4 separate regions of the Homo sapiens genome follow, and regions 1, 3 and 4 are each linked to region 2. The links come from fine-mapping of genetic effects on gene expression. A gene starts in region 2. Each other region holds a variant in brackets. All regions are shown on one strand. Distances are between the middles of the regions. Region 1 overlaps SLC35F3 (solute carrier family 35 member F3). Region 2 holds the start of SLC35F3 (solute carrier family 35 member F3). Region 3 overlaps SLC35F3 (solute carrier family 35 member F3). Region 4 overlaps SLC35F3 (solute carrier family 35 member F3).

Evidence for each region. PIP is the estimated chance that this variant, and not a neighbour inherited with it, causes the effect. A credible set is the group of variants that fine-mapping cannot tell apart.
Region 1: its variant is the best candidate, but not a certain one, in a credible set for the expression of SLC35F3 in lung (TOPMed, PIP 0.82).
Region 3: its variant is the best candidate, but not a certain one, in a credible set for the expression of SLC35F3 in whole blood (INTERVAL, PIP 0.81).
Region 4: its variant is the best candidate, but not a certain one, in a credible set for the expression of SLC35F3 in whole blood (TOPMed, PIP 0.86).

Annotation. Positions count from the first base shown.
Region 1 is chr1:233,933,837-233,938,988 of GRCh38, forward strand. All of the region lies in intron 2 of SLC35F3 (solute carrier family 35 member F3), which reads left to right. Among named protein-coding and RNA genes, the nearest start is that of SLC35F3, 32 kb to the left of the region's middle. The variant TCTC/T (reference allele first, on the strand shown) is at 2,680.
Region 2 is chr1:233,901,611-233,906,762 of GRCh38, forward strand. It overlaps SLC35F3 (solute carrier family 35 member F3), which reads left to right and starts at 3,066. Exons shown (of 8, transcript NM_173508.4): 1 at 3,066-3,520; 2 at 3,919-4,148. The coding sequence starts at 3,468.
Region 3 is chr1:234,242,731-234,247,882 of GRCh38, forward strand. All of the region lies in intron 3 of SLC35F3 (solute carrier family 35 member F3), which reads left to right. Among named protein-coding and RNA genes, the nearest start is that of SLC35F3-AS1, 28 kb to the right of the region's middle. RefSeq lists an enhancer at 4,094-4,233. The variant A/T (reference allele first, on the strand shown) is at 2,041.
Region 4 is chr1:234,215,200-234,220,351 of GRCh38, forward strand. The region is part of intron 2 of SLC35F3 (solute carrier family 35 member F3); the gene reads left to right. Among named protein-coding and RNA genes, the nearest start is that of SLC35F3-AS1, 55 kb to the right of the region's middle. RefSeq lists an enhancer at 1,108-1,197. The variant G/A (reference allele first, on the strand shown) is at 3,111.

The DNA of each region.
Region 1 (5,152 bases), 32 kb after region 2:
AGTGAGACTCCATCTCAAAAAAGGAAAGGGAAGCACACGGAAGAGGAAGAAAAGGAGAGTGTCCCAGGAAGGATGTTGCAGAGGAGGGACTCTTACTTTATTTCCAAAGCACGTAGAGATCATCTAATGTTTTGAGGCTATTCACTCCTCTTTGTTTTCTACTCTATTAGCACAAATAGTCTAGAGTTTAGCGGGAAGTGCTTTATTCCATTTGAAACATGATTGCATAACTTGCTCAGAGTTTTTCACATGCTGCTAAGGATAGCATAGGATATCAGTTATTCTTCAAAGTGAATTCAGAGTATGTCTTTAGGTTCAGAAGTATTCAGGCTATGAACCGGATGCATATTTTATCCTACACATTAAAAGTGGCCTTTATTCAGGTAAGCTTCCTTAAGTGAGGTTTTAGGGGAAACTGAGTGCCCCAGGGGTTAATATTCAGTTCCTCATTTTCTAAGACACTTCCCCACTTTCTAAGACATTAATTTGCTGCTTGAGTTGCCATTACATTTGTTTCTAGGTTTTTTCTATATGTATGAATTCCTTATTCTTAAAATCAACCTTCACGAATACACCCATGTAAAGCAAATAATTTCCCTGATAATAACTAGTCAGCTAGATGGGTTATACTATTGAGTTACATGTGCATTTATCTTGTTTTACAAATTACCATTAGACAAGAAAAAAATCAATTATTACAGAGATATTTTAATGAGCTGTCTTAAAAATACACTTCTTGTTGAAGTAAAATATCCAAAATGAAATGAATGTTAATTATAAGTGTACAGCTTGATGAATTATTACAAAATGAATATACCTTTCTTTACTGCATCTAGAGCAAGAAACAGAATATTACTGGCATGTAAGTGATTTTTTCAGATACCACTATACAGGAGATCTTATTAATTTTAAAATAATCAAAAAAGCCACTGGCTTTCCCTCTGAAGCAAAGGTAGCTCCCTATGCAGATAAACAATGTTTCAATGAAAATCTAAGTGGATCCTGTCTTTTACAAAGAAGCTGTGTCTAGCCTGGTATTCTGCCAGGATGATCAAGATAGCTTACATACATTCTAATCAGTGTATCATGTGAAAAATGGGATCTTATCATGCTTCTTGGAAGCTTTAGGTTTTCTTTGTAATTTTAATATCCCTTTGCAAGAGCTGACTTCCAGGCAAGATCTCTGTGCTGAAATTCCCATATGTTATGTATGTTTACTTGCTTTTCCACTAGATACCTTAACATTTCAGTCATGATTATTTTAAAGTTTCATTCTGGTGAAACCAGGTTGTCTCTGCATCTGGTTCTATTGATGGCTTTATTTCTTCACAATGAGCTGGGTTTTCCTTGCCCTTTTTTTTTTTTTTTTTTTTTTTTTTTTGCATACCTGAAAATACATGATTGAATACTGGCTATTGTGTGGAAAAGAACAGAAGAGACTGAGCCATACATTATTGATATCCAAAAGTGGACACACATCTTTTTGTGTCAGGCCATTAGTGGAAGGTTGAGTCAGTCTAGCTGGGAATTGATTTAGGTTTGAGTGTGTTTGACTGCCTCTTCTAACTTTCCTCCAGCAGCAATTGACCTTTGCCTGTATCCTGGAGGCAGGGCACTTCCTATATTGTCCTCAAAGTGAGCTGAAGTTTATCCTACTCCTAACCCAGAAGCAACCGATTTTTTTTTCCTTGGCCCTAGGTTGACGGAGTTTGCTGTCCAGTGACTTAAGACTTTTGCTTTCTGTAAGGGTTGAGAAAGTAGGCAGGGCTTTATGCCTGTCCCCAGCAGCAACTATCTGATCACCTCCCACAAGCTTATGTTGCCTTGAGAGGCTCTTTCTGTCTCTTGCCCTGCCCCAGTTCCTCTCATGAGCTACTTAGTGGAGGCTCAGGGGTAAGAACTTGAGCCCGAGTGCAAGCTTCCCTGTGCCTGAGACATCCACCTATTCCAAATTGACACGTTACTCTATATTTTGCCTTTAAGGATTCATTTAAAATGTAGCTGATTCCTTGTTACTCATTGGTATGGATGCCTCCTTTTTCATTCATCCTCTGCTAAAGGTAAAGCAGACGGTGTGTTTCATATTAACTCAGGAGTGCTTGGCACTTGAATTCAGTTTGTTTGCCTTTCAACAACCTCAGCTCTTGATGGGCTCAATAAATAACATAATTCTGTTGACTGTCCAGCTTTCTCTTGTAATTTTCTCTTGGGTCTTTCTGCATCCTAAGCAGAAGTAGAATTTGGTTGTAGGTTTTAAGTAGTGTTAACTATGTATTTGTTTTTGGTGCTGGTAAAAAGACCAGAGAAGAAGAGGTAAATATTATTACCTATCTGAGATCATTCCTTTTCAGTAGCCATGGCCCCCCCAGGGTTGCAGGTTAGCCTAGTGAAGATAGAAAAGGAAGATAGGAAGAAAGGAGATGTTATTGATATTTTGGTAATTGTTTATAAAAGGAGAGCAGCAGACAGAGTGACATCTCCAGCTCAGTTCAACAAGTAAACTTTTACTGGATAAGTTTTTCTAGGATACTATCCTGTCTGTATCATAATATCGTCTCTCTGTTTCTTATAGCCTGTGCCTGTCATTATAAAAACCTACATCTCAGAACAAGAGGGTAGTGGGGAACATTTGATGCTTCCCTTCTTGAATCCTATCCAGTGCCTCTTTCACCTTCTTGT[TCTC/T]CTCCTCCTCCTCCTTCTTCCTCCTCCTCCTCCTCTTTCTTCTTCTTCTCCTCCTTCCTCTTCCTCCTCCTCTTCTTCCCTGTCTTCTTCCTCTCCTCCTCCTCCTCATTCTTCTTCTTCTTCCTCTTCTCCTCCTCCTTTCTTCCCCTTCTTCTTTTTCTCCATCTCCTTCTCCTTCTTCTTTTTTTGAGACAGGGTCTTGCTATGTCGCCCAAGCTGAAGTGCAGTGGTGTGATCATGGTTCACTGCAGCCTTGACCTCCCAGGCTTAAGCAGTCCTCCCACCTCAGCTTCCCAAGTACCTGGGACTGCAGGTGTGTGCCACCATGCTGGGCTGATTTTTCAGAAATGTTTTGTAGAGACGGGGCCTCCTTGTGTTGCCTAGGCTGGTCTCGAACTCCTGAACTTAAGTGATCTTCCTGCCTTGGCCTCCCAAAGTGTTGAGATTACAGGCGTGACCACTGCATCTGGCCACCTCTGTCTTCTTACAGGCTCTGACATTTTGTGATAACAAGACTTGCCAGTCAGCATTTTACCATCCCTGCTTCCACTCCCATCTACCCCCATGAATCTAGCAGTTCACAACACTTGGCACCAGCATCAAAATAAGATACTTCCTCAAGTTTCATAGAAAGGGGAAAATCAAGAAGAACTGAACCTTAATGTAATGAAAGACAGAAGAAAAGCCTCATGGTAAATTAGGGTGCTGCTCATGTGAGAACCTAGATTTTAAAAAGGAGATTAAGGGCAATTTAGAAAATGATATCTTTGATAAAGATCAGGATACAAAAAGTAGCTGAATGCAAATTAAATGGATGAAGAGTATTTGGGATATCCATTCTGTTAAAATCAAGATGTGATACACCTTTTGTTTTAAAGTCAAGAGAAAAATTGTCCAAGGCTGCCTGTCTGAAGACTTCTGCCCCTGCAGAGACCAGTAAAGATAATCCAGCCATCTGATTATCCCTCTGTTTATGCTTGCCCAAAATAAGCAAAATGAGGACTTTTCCTATGAATCCTGAGACATCAGTTATTTTATTTTAGTACTAAAGTGCCCCACTGGAGTTGTTTGATGTTTTGGAAGGGCAAATTTGTAGACAAAGAAGAACCTTTGAAGTATTTGAAAAAGGGAAGTGATGGGATTGAATTTTCATTTTGAAAAATATACTCTGAAACAAAACGGAGAAGGGACTGAAAGCATTGCCTGGTTAGGAAGCTAATGCTATAATTTAGCAAAAGAAGATGAAGGTCACAACTAAGGCTGGGTCAGTGGGGATGCAGAAGGTGAGATAGAAGCAAGGATAGTCAGGGGGCAAGGATGGGAGACAGAGTTCGATAGTGTTGGTGAGTGCGGGAGAGGGGTGAGTGGAGGATGATGTTCAAATTTCTGACTCAGGTGACTTGTTAATGTTCAGGTAGTGATGTCCGTTAATTAGTTGAAAGTAGTTTGCAGAATTCAGGAGAGAAGATTGGGTTGACAATAGTCATTAAATTATAGGTGACAGAAGACAGGTGAAGCCTTGAATCAATGCCATTGCCCCCATTGATTAGTTGGGGTTCTTGGTTGAAAGCAACAGACATTCAATGTTTTCATCATAGGCAAAAAAATAAATTTCTGGAAGTAACTAAAAATTCACAGAAACAATAGGAGAATAGATGGCCAGACCTAAAAAGTGGGCATGATGTGGGGGCCCCAGATACTAGCAAGCAGAGAATACAATAAAGCTCATCCCTCAAAAGAAAGCCTGCAGCTGTGAAAGCTAGTTTTCAATTTGTCCCTCTGTCTTCATTGTACTGGCTTAAGATTTACAGGAATCTGATTGGCTGAACCCGGGTTATATGGTCTTTCTGTGGCTCTCCTAGGAGGTAGAATGTTGAAGAATCATATACCCTTGGCTTAGGAAGCTGCAGTGAGAGGCAACCTAAGAATATTGCCTTCTGACGTTGTACACAGTGGAAATTTCCCTTCAAATGGATTTTGGGATTCTAATATCAAAGGGATGGATGCTAGAGAACAACACAAGGGTCATTATACCTAAGGAAAAAGGTAATTATACCTAAGGTCAGTGAGAAGACGAAGAGCTAACAATGGATGGACAGATGGATGGATAGATGGATGGATGGATGGATGGAAGGATGGAGGGATGGATTGGTGGGTGGATGGATGGATGGATGGATGGATGAATGGATGGATGGATGGATGGATGAATGGAAGTATAGGTGGATGGATGGAAAGATGGGTGGATGGATAGACACAGAGGAACTAGTCTAGGGAACTGAATGATCGGAAAGGAAAGCAAATACAAGAAATTGAGTCATAGAAGTGAGGAAAGGAAAAACTTATCAGAAAGCAGTATTGGTTAACAATGTCAAACTGCAACACTGCAGTCAAGGAAGATGAGGACTAAAAAGCATCCGTTCGGCTTAACTATTAGTAGATTACTGGGTCCCTAAGCACCCAGTCTCCATTA
Region 2 (5,152 bases):
GTTCACAGCAAATTTGAGGAGAAAGTACAGAAAGTTTTTAAATACCTTCCCCCTGTCACACACCCACAGCTTCTCTCCACCCACGTCAACATCCTGCACCAGTGGTACATTCGTTACAAATAATGAGCCAACATTGACACATCACTATCACCCAAAGTCTATAGTTTACATTGGGGTTAACTCTTAGGGTTGTGCATCCACTGAGTTTTGACATATGTATAATGATATATATCTACCATTACAGTACTATACAAAATCAACCCACTGCCCTAAAAATCCTCTGTGTTCTGCCTGTTCATCCCATCCTCTCCCCAACCATTGGGAACCAGTGATCTTTAAACTATCTCCATAGTTTTGCCTCTCTCAGACCGGTTTCTTTCACTTAGCAATATGTTTTCAATTTCCTTCATGTCTTTTTGCAGCTTGATAGCTCATTTTATCACTGAACGGAATATTCTTTTGTATGGATGTACCACAGTATGTTTATTCATTCAGCTACTGAAGGACATCTTGGCAATCATGAAAAAAGTTCCTATAAACATTTGTGTGCAGATTTTTGTGGGGACTTAAGTTTTGAACTCATCCAGGTAAATATCAAGGAGCATGACTGATGGGTTGCATGGTAACAGTATGATTAATTTTGTAAGGAACTCAAACTGTCTACCAAAGTGCTGTACCATTTTGCATTCCCACCAGCAATGAATGAGAGACTTCTTGCTGTTCCACATCCTGCCAGCATTTGATGTTGTCAGCGTTTGGGATTTTATTCATTCTAGTAGGTGTATAGCAATACATCTTTTTTGTCTTAATTTGGAATTCCCTAATGATGTATGATGTGGAGCATCTTTTCATGTGCTGATTTACCATCTGTATATCATCTCTATTGATATGTTTGTTCAGCTGTTTTGCCAATTTTTTAATTGGGATCATTTTCTTATTGTTGAGTTCTAATTATTCTTATTTTTTATTACAGTTCTTAATCATGTATATGATTTGACATATTTTCTATTGGTCTGTAGCTTTTCTTCCCATTGTTTTAACAGTGTCTTTTGTAGAGCAGAAGTTATTAATCTTAACGAAGTCCAATACCAATTTTTACTTTCATGGATCATGCCTTTGATGTTGTATCTAAAATGTCATTTACAAACCCAAGGTCACCTAGGTTTTCTCCTTTTTATCTTCTAAGAGTTTTATAGTTTTGCATTTTATATTTAGGTCTATGATCTATTTTGAGTTAATTTTTGTGAAAGGTGTAAGGTCTGTATCTATGTATCCAGCTTCTTTTCTTTTTTTCTCTCTTTCTTTCTTTTTTTTTTTTGTGATTGGATGTCTAGTTGTTCTAGCACCATTTGTTGAAAAGGTGATCTTTTCTCCATTAGATTTCTTTTGCTCCTTTGTCAAAGATCACTTGACTCTATGTGTGGGTCTATCTTGGCCTCTCTATTCTGTTCCATTAATCTATTTGTCTGCTCTTTCACCAATACCACACTGTCTTGATTACTGTAACTATAGTAAGTCTTGAAGTTGGGCAATATCAGTCCTCAGACTTTGTTCTTCTCCTTTAATATTGTGTTGGCTATTATGGGTCTTTTGCCTTTTCATATAAACTTGAGAATCAGTTTGTGATATTCACAAAATAACCTCCTGGGATTCTGATTGGAATTACTTTGAATCTATAGATGAAGTTGGGAAGAACTGACATCTTAACAATATTAAATTTTTCCATCCATGAACATAAAATATCTCTCTATTTATTTAGTTCTTTGATTTCTTTCATCACAGTTTTGTAGTTTTTCTCATATAGATATTGTACATATTTATTAGATTTGTACCTAAATATTTCATTTGAGTGGTGTGCTAATATAAATAGTATTGTGGTTTTAATTTCAAATTCCCATTGTTCGTTGCTAGTATATAGAAAAGCAGTTGACTTTTGTACATTAATTTTGTATCCTTCAATCTTACCATAATTGCTTATTAGTAACAGGAGAGTTTTTTTGTCAATTGAAATTTTTCTACATCAACAGTCATGTCAGCTGCAAAGACAGTTTTCTTTTACCTTTTCCTTCACAATACGTATACTTTTAATTTCCTTTTCTTGTCTAATTTCATTAGCTGGGACTTTCAGTATGATGCTGAAAAGGATTGCTGAGTAGAGACATACTTGCCCTGTTCCTTATTTTAACAGGAAAGCTTCTAGTTTCTCACCATTAAGCATGGTGTTAGCTGTACGCTTTTGTAAATGTTCTTTTTCAAGTTGAGAAAGTTCCCCTCTATTCATAGTTTGCTGCTATACAATATGATTTTAATATAAAAAAAGCAGTACATAAAGTAGTGTGTACAATTTCATTCCGATTTTTGTGACAACTGTATTTTGCGTTGGAAAAAAGCCTGGAAGAGAATACGTTCATAATTGAAAGTCGTCATTTTTGGCTGGATAATGGATATTTTCTTCTCCACATACTTCTATCTTTTCTAAATTTGCCCCGATGAAAAATAATATTAGGAAAGGTGATTAGGTAGTCTGAAGAGAATGCCTTTCGGCCGTCGGGGGCAGTGGGGTGGTAAGGAAAAAGATGAGAAGCTTTTAAAATGGAAATCTATGAAGAGAGAACTGATTTCGTAATTGCATCATCAGTGGGAAAGTAAGCTCTCTGAGGACCAGGTCTGACTGAGAGATCCCCACAGCGTAATAGATAATACATTTTGTGTCTCAGCGTTGCCTATGAAACGCCATTTATTCACTTGGCATGCTGAGCATGGAACCAGGTTTCTTTCTTTCCAAGTAGTTTTGCTAATTTAGAGAAAGAGAGAGACAGACATATACATAGAGAGAGAGAGAGAGAGAGAGAGAGAGAGAGAGAGAGAGAGTGTGAGAGAGAGAGAGAAAAGTACTGAACTGGGAGCGGCAGGGTTTGAGTCAAAAGAGAAGGGTGGAGGAGCGCGTCCGGTGCCCCAAGGCTTCCAGGCGGAGCGCGGGCGCGAGGTGCGGGCTCCGGGGCGGAGCGCACGCCCGGGAGGCGGGAAGTGGGCAGCAGCGCCCCCGCCTGGCCCCTGTGCGCCCCGACCCGACGCCTCCCCGCCCGACCAGGTGCCTCGAGAGCGCACAGCTGGGAGGGCTCTCCCGGTCGCGGCGAGACTCACGCCTGCGGTGTGCTAGGGCGGCGGCGACGGTGACGGGCGTGGGGCGCGGCGCTGCCTCGGCTGCCGGGTCGTTGCGGCGAGCGCGCGGGCCGGCCTGGAGTCACCGGGCTGAACCGCCGCGCCTGCATCGTGCCGCACGCCGCGGAGGCGCTCGGGTACAGACCGCGCGGGCGCGCACAAAGCGGCCCGGGGCGGCCGGCGCGGCGCAGACCCTCGGTGGGCAGCGCACTCCAGTCTTCCCAGGCTAGCGGCTGCAGGGAGCTCCGGCCCGCGGCCCCTCCGCCTCAAGTCTGGGAGCTGCCGGTCCCACTCTGTCTTTGCCTATGGGGATTCGAGAGTTTCCCAGCGGCGCACCCAGGGGCAAGAGCATTGCCGTGTGAGTAGCGCCCCGGGCGTGGGTGAGCGAGCCGGCGGGCGGGAGGCCGGAGCGCCGGGGTAGCCCTTTGCAGCTGGGACACTGGGCAGTCTGAGGCTCGGGGAAGGGCGGCGCGCGCGGTGGAGCTGCTCGGGAAGTTTCAGTCATTCTTTCCCTCGCCACTCGCCCCAACCCGCACTGCCCCGAGACGCCCAGGATAGGGCACTGGGGACAGCTGCCCGGGGAAGTGGGTGAGTGGCGGCGGGAAGGGAGGAGCGCGGGCTCTGCCGCGGCGCTCGCCCCCGGAGGGCCCCGGCCGCGCTCTTGCTCTCGCCCTGGGATCTGCTCCTCACGAATCCCCTCCTCTCTGTCCATGCTCCCCCTGCCCACCCACCTGCCCGTGGCGCCTGCGACCGCAGTGGCATGAGGAGGTCACCGGACGTCAGCCCCCGGAGACTGTCCGACATCAGCCCCCAGCTCCGGCAGCTCAAGTACTTGGTGGTGGACGAGGCGATTAAGGAGGATCTGAAATGGTCGCGCTCCGTGGAGGATCTCACCAGCGGGCCGGTGGGGCTCACGTCCATCGAGGAGCGGATCCTGCGCATCACTGGCTACTATGGCTACCAGCCCTGGGCAGCGAGCTGCAAAAGTAAGACCCCCTCACGTCATGTTTCCCGTTCACTGGTCCATCTTCTTACCATTGTCACAGCAGCCTCGGGGAGCGCACGCAGTGAGGCGTCCAGCCACCCCCTCCCGCCCTGCCTGCTGATACAGACCCAGGTTTGCAACTTCGAGGAAGAGGCCCGGAGACGGAGTTCTCCTGGACCTCTGAGGCGTTCTGATGCGTTCTCTTACACCCCTTCCTCTCCCACACACAGGATCTCTCTGTATCCTTATCTCTCCACTGCCAAATACGGAGGACACTCCTATGTGGCAGACCGTGGGAAACAGATCAGAAACTCAAAGTATCCCGGACAGTGTGGCTTCCCCGCGGATCTGAAAGTCTCACAGGGCCCTCGGTCAGGTCTCACCAGGCTCAGATGGAGATGCTGACTTACATAGCCAGGATTTTAACTCTTCCTTGCATCTCCTAGCCCTGATGATAGAGGACAATTCTTGGGGTCTTCATTTTGGATGCCGTTCACGCCCTTCTCCCCTGGATTTTATCGGTCTTCAGTAAGGAGGTTCTATAGGGATCATTCTAGATAGTGGTGTTGGTCCCTGCAAGTTGAATGTTTGGTGTCAGGTGGAGAAGCTGAAATGTTTTTCTTTCCGTGGGTCCTAGCTAATGGCTTTGAGGATGCTGTGATCAATTAGACAGACATTATCTTATGTCACCAGGACTAATTTGGTGGACATTTCTTTTTCTCACTTTGCAAGAGAGAGGTTGATTATGATGAAATCCAGATATCTATAAATATAACCATAATTAGGTGGTCTCATCACTGTAGTTTGACATAAGAGATTGCCATTTGCCACCTCAGTCCGTATGAGAAATGGGCCTTGACGTCTTTCATTTGTAATAAAGACTAGATTAATAGCTTGTTGATTTTGAGTTTTTTTCGACCTTTTATTGCTTAAAATTGAAACATTATTTATTGGTCTTTAAGGGGAAAACGGGCGTTTGTAATTTAATCATATTCATCACTAAAA
Region 3 (5,152 bases), 340 kb after region 2:
AGCATTTCACGCTTTTCTTACCTAAGTGCCTTATTTTATGACACTTACATTTAATGAGTTACTCTCAATCATATATACTTTATTAATTTATGACAAAATAAATTAAAAGCACTGGATATTAAAGCTCCCTTGTTGCAGGAACACATCATTAGAAACACTAGATAGCATTATTTTGCTACATGTTTCTCAGGGAAAAACAGAAGAGAACTTTGTCAAAGAAAGACTTTAAGTGTTTCACCAACAAAATGGAGACAGGCTTATCAGTATTTTACTATGAATTAGTGGGGGAGTAGGGGGAATGGGTCTTCCAAATGCTTATTGGTTAAAAGTGTTTTGTTTTGGCCGGGTGTGGTAGCTCATGCCTGTAATCCCAGCACTTTGAGAGGCCAAGGCAGGCAGATCATTTGAGGTCAGGAGTTCAAGACCAGCCTGTCCAACATGGTGAAACCCTGTCTCTACTAACAATACAAAAAAATTAGCTGGGCGTGGTGGTGCACACCTGTAATTCCAGCTACTCGGGAGGTTGAGGCACGAGAATCACTTGAACCTGGGAGACAGAGGTTGCAGAGATCACGCCACTGCACTCTAGCCTGGGCGACAGAGTGAGACTCCGCCTCAAAAAAAAATAATAAAGTGTTACTGGGGGTATGCTCACCTGCGTATCCCCAATAACACTTTATTATTAGATAACCGACTGTTATTAAAGTTGGACAAAAGTTGGTGTATTTATGCCCAGCTTAGAAAGTGCCTTTGTCTCTTGGTAAAGATGTTTTCTCGCATGTAGCAAGTGGAGGGAATTCACAAAGTAGATTGAGGGACACATGTAAACGTGCATTTTGCAGAATCCTTTTAGAGGATGTAGGAGGTGTAATAGATCTTCTCTAAAGAGGAAGGTTGGCACCTTCTAGGTTTCCTGGCCAAGCCCCCAGCTCTCAGGAGTCCTAAGCAAGCCACTGGTGTCCCGTTTGACTTTGCAAAACCACATCATTCTGAGACAGAGATGGGTGACTCTGAAGCCAAGATCCCTGCTCCTGCTACAGTGCAGGGTTGCTGCAGGGAGGGCTGTGCAGCCAGAGACTACTACATCTCCCAGCCTCCCCTGGCATCTAACTTGGGCTAAGTGACTTCCCTCCAAATGGCTAGCAGTCAACCAAGACAGATAATAAGCAGATGGGCATTTTCCTCCACTTCCCTGTTCCACTGGCCACATCACAGAATCCCCAGGCTTCAAGGGATTGCATAGCTGCAAGGTGGGAGAAGGCTCACCAACGGGTGAAATGACACCTGTCAACCAGTAACATGAATCAAAACTAAACTTCTGTGTGCCAAGCCTCTGAACAGAAGAGTTTGGCATAACAGCTAGCATGACATTGATTAGTATGATCTCCATCTCTCCCCACAAGCTCAGAGTTGGAGTCAGTCTGAGAGCCTACATCCTCTACCATGCATACTTAGATATCCTTATTGGCCAAAAGCTTCCATGTGGCTTTATTTTTATTCTGAATATAATAAAAATTTTTAAAGAGTATCTGGACAGAAAATGTCAATCTTTGAACACCACAAGGACAGGGATCATGTCCGTCTTGCTCACCTGCATGTCCCCAGCACCTTGCACAGTGCCCGGTGGGGTGCTGGTAGAAAGGGGTTGGGGGAAGGAAGAAACTATCCATGGGCAGTGGTGGTGATATCAATATCATGTTCACAATCAGAGTAGACTTGCTAAGATCAGCTCTCGGCAGGCAGTCTCCAAGGAGCAATGCAGGAATCATTTCCCTCTGTCCTTATAAGAAGCTGTTCCTCTATCATCCAGAATGATAAACTAATCCTATTCAGAAAGAGCCCTTGAATGACAAAGTAAGTTTTAGAAAAAGAAGTGCTTGATTATCACTTTTTTTTTTTTTTGGAAATTAGTCAGGTCTGAAATTAGTAGACTAGCAGAGGGGAAGTTCCATTATGCCATCTGATTGAACTGAGAGTAAAAACCCATCTTCAGGAAGTTTCAATTCCACATTTATACTGGCTAGAATTTCACAAGTTCCT[A/T]AAGCTCACTGAGTCCTGGAAGAGAAGAATTTAGAGGATTTGTGCATTTAGGGTCTTTAAAGTCCTGCTAACTTTTTTATCAATATAAAATATATATTATGTGTAAATGTGTTTTTTACATGCATAGACTATGTAATGATCAAGTCACTATTGGGGGTTTCCATCACTTTGAGTATTTGTCATTTTTATGCATTGATATCATTTCATGTCCTCTCTTCTCATTAGTTTGAAATACACAAAATATTGTTTGCTAAGCATCGTCACCCTAGTCTTTTTCCTTAGTACTCTTTTCTTCTATCTAACTGTATGTTTGTCCCCATTAACCAACTTCACTTCACTCCTACCCTCTACCACCACCTACCTTTCCCAGTCTCTGGTACTATTATTCTGTTCTCTGTGTCCTTGAGATCAAGTGTTTTTAGCTCCTGCATGAGTGAGAACATGCAGTATTTCTCTTTCTGTGCCTGGATTATTTCAATTAACAGAATGACCTCCAGTTCCATCCATGTTGCTGCAAATGACATGATTTCATTCCTTTTTACAGCGGAATGGTATTCCATTGTGTATATATGCCACATTTTCTTTATCCATTTGTCCATTGATGGACACATAAGTTGATTCCATATCTTGGCTGTTGTGAATAGTGCTGTGATAAACATGTGAGTGCAGGTATCCCTTTGAGATACTGATTTATTTTCCTTTGGATAAATACCCAGCAATGGGATTGCTTCCTGCTATGGGATTTGAGAACCTACATCTGTTTCAGTTACTATTACTCTTTAACAAACTAATCTGAACCTTAATGGCATTAACAACTCCTTTGTTGGCATCAAGGGATGGCTTTTCCCCTGCTCCATGATGCTTAGAGCGTGTGCTGGAGGGGGCAACTCAACAGCTGGGGGCTAGGCACATCTGTTGTCTTCCTCCAATGTCTGGAAGTTGATGCTGGTTGTCATGGGCCACCTAAGCTGGAGCTGTCAACCTGAGGGTCTACACTTGGCCTCTTCTGATGGCCTGGGCTTCCTCACAGGAGGGTGGTCCGTGGTAATCACACTGCGTTCATGGTTGCAGCTCAGAGCCCCAGAGGGATCAGTGGACACACAGCAGAAACTCCATTCCTTTTAGGACCTAGCCTCAAAGTCACATAGTGTCACTTCCACCATAGTTTATGTCAAGGCAGTTACGAGCCTGCCCAGTTTCAAGGGGGAGGGGGACATCAACTTTGCCTCTTGACTGGAGGGTGGCAAGATCATCTCGGGGAAGAGTACATGGAATGGGAGGTATTGCTGCTACCACCTTTGGAAAATATTATCTTCCACAGCATCTGAAGCAAAGGTGGTGTTTAGAGAGAGTAGTACACTGGCCTCTGTTAGGAAGATGTGTTACTGGGCTAGGAAAGGCTGCCAGTGGCAGAGGCTTGGGGTTTGGGAGGCAGGAGGAGTGGCTCAGATGGAGAATTCTACCAGGGCAGCAGCAGTTCACTTTCTCTAACCTGACCCCAGAGAGCAATCAGGACCCTGATTTACCCCCAAGCTTTTGGGTGCAGCTGGTCTAGCTTCAAGCCCTTCTAGACACCCTGGGACCTACCCAGGTTCCCCCAGACTTCAGCTGCAGCATCTGCTGTCTCCTTTCTCTGAGAAGCAGGGCCTGTATCAGTAAAGCAGAAAATAATATCAACCTGGATAGAGAGGACTAATAAAAGTGATAATAAATTATTCAGAGAGTGGAAAACTACTCTGGAGCTGCCAAATGATAAGAGCAAACACACGATGTGTTTTCTGTCCATGAATCTTCTGGATTCCTTTTTCCATACTGATGTTTTCCCCTTCTGAATAGGTGAAGTATTTTTATGCAAATAGTGCCCAAGAAGTACAGTAATGCAGGCCACTGACAACACAGTCATGTATAACCCAAGTCACATCCTTTTATGCACTGAACTGCCAGGGGACCTAGCATTAATAAAAACCACACGTAAAACAGAAACAGCCATATGCTGAGTTAAGGCATGAATAAGAAATCACTCCCAGAAGTGGTGAGAACAGCAGAGCAGAGTGCTATTGTGGCTCTGTAGGTTGAGTGCTCTGAGAATTGGGAGGCCCTGTCGGCTGCTGTATGTGTTCAAGTCAGATGGTGTCGGTCGGGGGTAAGGCCAGACCATGGTGCTGTCCTAGGAGCCAGGCACAGCACAGAGGAGGTGGCAGACACGGCAGGGTGTGATGGTCTCAAAATAGCAGAAACCACAGCCAAGTTCAAGACCCAGTTACCAGTTCATGGGGCTGGAAACCTGGAAACCAAGGTGTGAAACCAAACAGGTGGGAGCTTGAGCACCAGCAATGGTGTCTTAAATAGTTCCAAGCCCAAGTTGTATGGGAAGGTTGGGTGCTAGGTGCTTGAAACAAAAAAAGAAGAGAAACTCTGTGTGGCAGGGAGTAGTGGAATTATGTGAATGCATGGGTGCATGTATGCATGTGTCTATGTGTGCATATGTGTATAATAGAGCAATGGTTTTAAACTTTGTCATTTGATTGTTGGGTTGGTCAGTTGATTGGCTGGTCCATTGTTTGATAGTTTGGTTGGCTGTTCCATTGTTCGGTAGGTTGGTTGGCTGGTCCATTTTTAGGTGGGTTGGTTGGCTGGTCCATTGTTTGGTGGGTTGGTTGGTTGGTCCATTGTTTGGTGGGTTGGTTGGTTGGTTGGTCCATTGCTTGGTGGATTGCTTGGCTGGTCCATTGTTCAGTAGGTTGATTGGATGGTCCATTGTTCAGTGGGTTGGTTGCCTGGTTCGTTGTTCAGTGGGTTGATTGGCTGGTCCATTGTTTGGTGGGTTGAATGGCTGGTCTATTGTTCAGTAGGTTGGTTGGCTGGTCCATTGTTTGGGGGGCTGGTTGGCTGGTCAGTTGTTCTGTGGGTCGGTTGGCTGGTCCATTGTTCAGTGGGTTGGTTGGCTGGTCCATTGTTTGGTGGGTCGGTTGGCTGGTCCATTGTTTGGTGGGTTGGTTGGCTGGTTCATTGTTCAGTGGGTTGGTTGGCTGGTCCATTGTTTCATGGGTCAGTTGGCTGGTGCATTGTTTGATGGGTCAGTTGGCTGGTGCATTGTTTGATGGGTCAGTTG
Region 4 (5,152 bases), 310 kb after region 2:
TTGGAAGGGCTGTGAGAGGCCCCCAGAAGGTGTCCTCCTCCCCGTGTTGTCCTTTCTGCCTGGAACTGCTCCCACCCAGGAAATGTGAGCGAGAGGACAGGGGAAGAAGCAGCCCACCGAGGAGAGCTTCCTCAGACACAGCTGGCTTCTGCTGGCCTAAGGGGCCTTGCTTTCCAATGGAGAAGGGGGGCAGAGGGCCAGTCCCAGTTCTTAACTCCTCCTCCCAGGAGGCAGAGGTGGAATGACTAACTCCCTCTGCCAGGAGCAAGCCACCTTGGCCAGGTGAGGCAGACAGACCATCCCCTGGGTCCCAGGAGCTCCCCTCTAGGCTTTTGCTTGTGCTGAGCTAACAGAGCCCATGAGCATCAGCGGTGAATGAGGGGCAGCCATGGGCTCCGACAGAGCCTGGCTTCTGCCCTTCCCAGGAAGCCTGGACTTCTCTAGGCTACTGTTGACCCTGCTTCCCACTCGTGACTTCTTGTTTATTACAATGAATCTCAGAACCAGCGAGGACAAGACAGAGGCTGGCTTGGTAATTGTATATCCCAAGCTTAGCTGTCCACACAGGCCTGCCTGCAGCTGCCCTAGTACTGTGATCCCCATCCTACTGAGGAGCACTGTGAGGCCCAGCAAGGTGGGTTAACGTGTCCTAGACCCACAGTTGGTAGGTGGTGAAGCAGGAATGGAATCCTGGGCTGTCCGATCCAAAGCTCAAGCATTTTTTCCAGAACATCAGTTTGCACTGAACTGCAACTACTTACCTATTTCTCAACATTTTCTATCTTTAGGAGGTTGGGTTTTTTTCCTTCTTGTGGCTGTCTTCTTCTCTCCTCCATCCCAACCTCAGGAATGACTTGATATCAGCCATCTACACCTGAGTTTAGTGCAAGTGCTACCTCTTCCAGGGGTGTTTGTATTTCTAAGCCTACCCAGACATTGCCCACATGCATGTGTGAATTGGGGAGGGAAGGATTGGCCATTTATTTCTCTGAGGGAAGCAGGGAGTGAGTGTCTGCTCACTCATAGGGTCCTCATGGGAAGCTGCCCACTCCTACCTCCTAGTAGGACAGATTGGTTCTGCTCTCCAGCAGCAGGGGGTCTCCCTGGGAAACTCCCAGCCCACCTTAGGCAGGACAGGTTCGAACTGCACTGGAAGTGGGGCAGGACGCGGATGGTGGGGCTACCTGAACTGGGTGCTGTGGCCTCAGAGGTGCTGCAGGAGGCAGTGAGTGGCATGCGAGGCACAGGTACTTCCCTATGGCCAAGCCTGGAGGTTGCCTTCAGGGAATGAAAGTGAAAATTATCTCCCACTAACCACCAACCCCCCAAAAAGTCCCTTAGGGCTGCTGCCAAAAGAGCTTTGAGTCTCCTGCACCTGCTAACGCCAGCAGCTGCCTCGCCACGGGCTTGGCTTTGGAACTAGCATTTCCTCATAAATGCCTGTGGATAACGGAAATGTATAGTGAACTAAGAAATGGTGAGATTGAGGATCAAGACTGGGCCCTGCCCCTTTTCCAGTTGGATTTGTGTAAATCACGAACACAGCCTCAGTTTCCGCAAACGTAAAAGAGAAGGAACAACCTACTTCAGCAGGCTGTGAGGAGATGCAATAAGGTAGAGGTAGCTGAAAATGCCTGGCAAGCCCCCAGTTGCATTTTTCGTGGGATACCTACAAGTATCCCATGCAAAATTCTGCCCCTCGGGGCCTCATAAAACCTGCTCTTGGTATGCCTGGCTCACATATAGCTCTTTCTCTCTGCCTAGTTTTTTTCCTTGGTGTTTTTATTCAGTTTGGCTTTTGGTCTATTTTTTGGAAACCATTTGCATCTTATGTGCTGGTTTTGGAAGTGTTGAATCATTTCATTTTAACTTGAATGCACAGGGCAAGGTGGTCCCCATGCTGTGGGTGTTTCTGTATGGATGGCAGACAGGCTACAGGGAGGGAATGCAGCCAGCGAGGAATATTTATTAGCTTGCAGAGTGTGTCATCTAAGGGGAGGCAAGAAGGCACCAGCATGTGGTACATATAAAACCAAAATAGAAAAGGCAAAGCTTGGTTAAACTCAAACACAGGAAGATGGGCAAGATGACTTCATTTACTCAACAAATACTTCATCCAACCCTACTCTGTGTCCTGTGACAATTTAGCAAGGCCCTGGAAAGGCAAAAAGGAACAATTCTAGCTTCATTCTCTTAAGGACGTTTTAGTCTAGAGGGGAAGAGACATACAGATAGATAGATAAATTATCAAATACAAAGTAGTAAGTTCTGGTATCGAACTGAAAAGCAAGGTGTCACGGGGACACTGAGAGTTGAGCAATCTGAGGAGGTGTTCCTGAGGAGGAGGCCTTCATGAGGAGGAGGGTTTCTACAGAGGAATACTTTCTGAGGGGGGCCTTTCTGAGGGGAAGGCCTTTCTGAGAAGGAGGCCTTTCTAAGAAGAGGCCTTTCTGAGGAGAAGATATTCCTAAGAAGAGGAGGCTTTTCTGAGAAGGAGGGCTTCTAAGGAGAAGGCCTTGCCGGGGAAGCCTCCTCAGAAAGATCTCTGAGGAGGAGGCCATTCTAACAAAAGGGCCTTTTTGAGGAAGAGGCCATCTAAGAAGGAAGCCTTCCTCAGGAAGAGGCCTTTCTGAGGAGATATTCCTGAGGAACAGGCCTTTCTAAGATGGAGCCATTCTAAGGAGGGGGCCTTCCTGAGGAGGAGGCCTTATGAGGCATCACAGCTGAGGCTGGGGGGATATGAGAAAGCTTGTTGGTGCAGAGGGGAGGAGAGGCAGTTTCAGGCAGAGAGAACATGGATGCTAGGGCTCAGCCCAGAAGCATGAGGAGAGTGGGGCTGGGCCTTAGATAGGGGTTAAGGTTTGAAAAGTGTGTTCTGGCGAGATTGATGGCATCTGTCATGTCTAAAAACATACCTTGTTTTCACAGATCCTTTGCTTGGCTTTCCTTTCAGAAGCAGAGCATTGGTCAGTAGCACATCTCTAATAGACTAGTGTTTACTGGGATCAGCTCTACTCACAATCAACTCATTCATGTTCAGTGAAATTACATTCAATAGGGATTAATCATTGAGAACAGTACAATGAATTCCCCCAAGAGGCGTGCAGCAA[G/A]TAGTGTTGTGGAAAGGGTGAGGGCTTTGGAATTAGATGGACTGGGTCTATCCAGCTGTCATGCTAGGTGAGTGATTTCTGGCTAATGAATAAAGCTCTCCAGGAATCAGTTCCGTCCTAGGAAAGGAGGGGTGATGACATCTTGCTCTTAATACTCAAATAATAGTTTTTGCTAATGAATGCCTCCTATATTGCAGGTACTATGCTAGGAGAGATTGTTCCATTATCTCTATTTTTTCCCTAAGCAAGGGTAAGTATTGTTATCCAACTTTATAGATAAGGAAACTGAGGCTCAGAAAACTCATTCACGAAGGAACTGTAATTAGAAAGCAAGGATCCCAGGCTTCAAATCTATATCTACCTGGCTGCAAATGTTGCAAGACCTTTGCACAACTGCATTTCATTTGAGTAGGAGAGAGAATTATATCAGCTCATGGCACTTTGTAGATGCTCAGTAAATGCTCCCTAAAGCTCCCATTGTATGTAATTCCAGCAGTTTGGGAGGCCGAGGTGGGTGGATCATGAGGTCAAGAGAGCAAGACCATCCTAGCCAACATGGTGAAACCCTGTCACTACTAAAAATACAAAAATTAGCTGGACATGGTGGCGTGCACCTGCAGTCCCAGCTACTTGGGAGGCTGAGGCAGGAGAATCACTTGAACCCAGGAGGCGGAAGTTGCAGTGAGCCCAGATCATGCCACTGCACGCCAGCCTGGTGACCTGGTGACATAGAGAGACTCCATCTCAAAAAAAAAAAAAAAAAAAAAGCTCCCACTGTAATATAACTAATATAACTCAGTGGTTGGGACCCCCATGGGGGGTTCATAGGCCCCATGGCTGTGTGCCATATTCTTAGTGCCTCTCCTTTGGGAGTGTTGGGTGATCTCAGCTGCCCCCAGAGTAGGTCTGACTACCTTGTTCCTGTCAACAGGATAAGACGGTTATCCTGGAATGCTCAATTAATAGTATATAAAGACCCAGGATGCTGGCCCAGTCCAAGAGGATTCTTGAGAAGTATACTGCCAAAGAGTTTCCCCAAACCCAAAATATTTCCCTGATTGGCTAGCTCTAGGTCTGAAACTTCAGTGGCAAAAGTCATTCATGTAGTGATCAAATATTTTACCTAATATACGCAAGAGAATGAACCAGATGTTTGGGAGGATTCTAAGAGGAGTGAAACATAATCCTTGATCCAACAGAGCTTCCAATCGAGTGAGGAATGTCAGAAAGGCATACCAATAAAGAATGCATGCTGAAATGTAATGTTTTTGATTCTATGGAAGAAGTATAAAGTAAATGTTGCATTTCAGCTGAGGGTGAACTCAGTTCTGGCTGGGACGCAGATGGCCCCTGCGCAGCACTCTTGCTTGCCGTCATTACCCCCTTCTTCGCCAAAATGACCTGATCTGACAGGATACTCTTTCCTGCTGAGCCTGGATGTGGCCTCAGAATTCTTCTTGTCACCACACTCCAGGTGACGGCCTAAACATTTATTGGAACTGCTTTTCCTGGAAGCACGGTCGGGATGGCATGGTAGAGGAGTTTGCCTCTGCCCTGGGCTGTCAGAGGTGGGAGGTGAGAACACAGCATTTCCTGACAGAGGGAGCCACAGACGAAGGCGCAGAGCTAGGAGAGGGTGGCGCTGGGAGACCAGCAGGCAGTCTACTGGGCCAGAGCGTAGTGATCAGAAGAAGCAGGAGGAGGGGAGGTTAAGCTAGACCATGGGCAGATGCTGAGGCATCCTGAACGCTGGACTCGGAAGACAGGATTGAAACAGGGGGAGCCAGAGAAGAGAAGAAAACACCATCCGAAACTGAGAAAAGACGGTCATGGGCAGCAGTGGTGTTCAAACTGGGTTATGAAATCTCTTTCATCAGTCGCAATAAGTATTTCTTATCAAAGGAATTAGAATAGAATAAAAACTGCCACTGTCTATCAAATGTAATAAGAGACAGAGTGGATCCAAGATGCTTTCATTTCAGGGGTGTGTGTGTGTGTGTGCTCATGTGTACATGCTCATACGTGTGTGTCATATTGAAGGT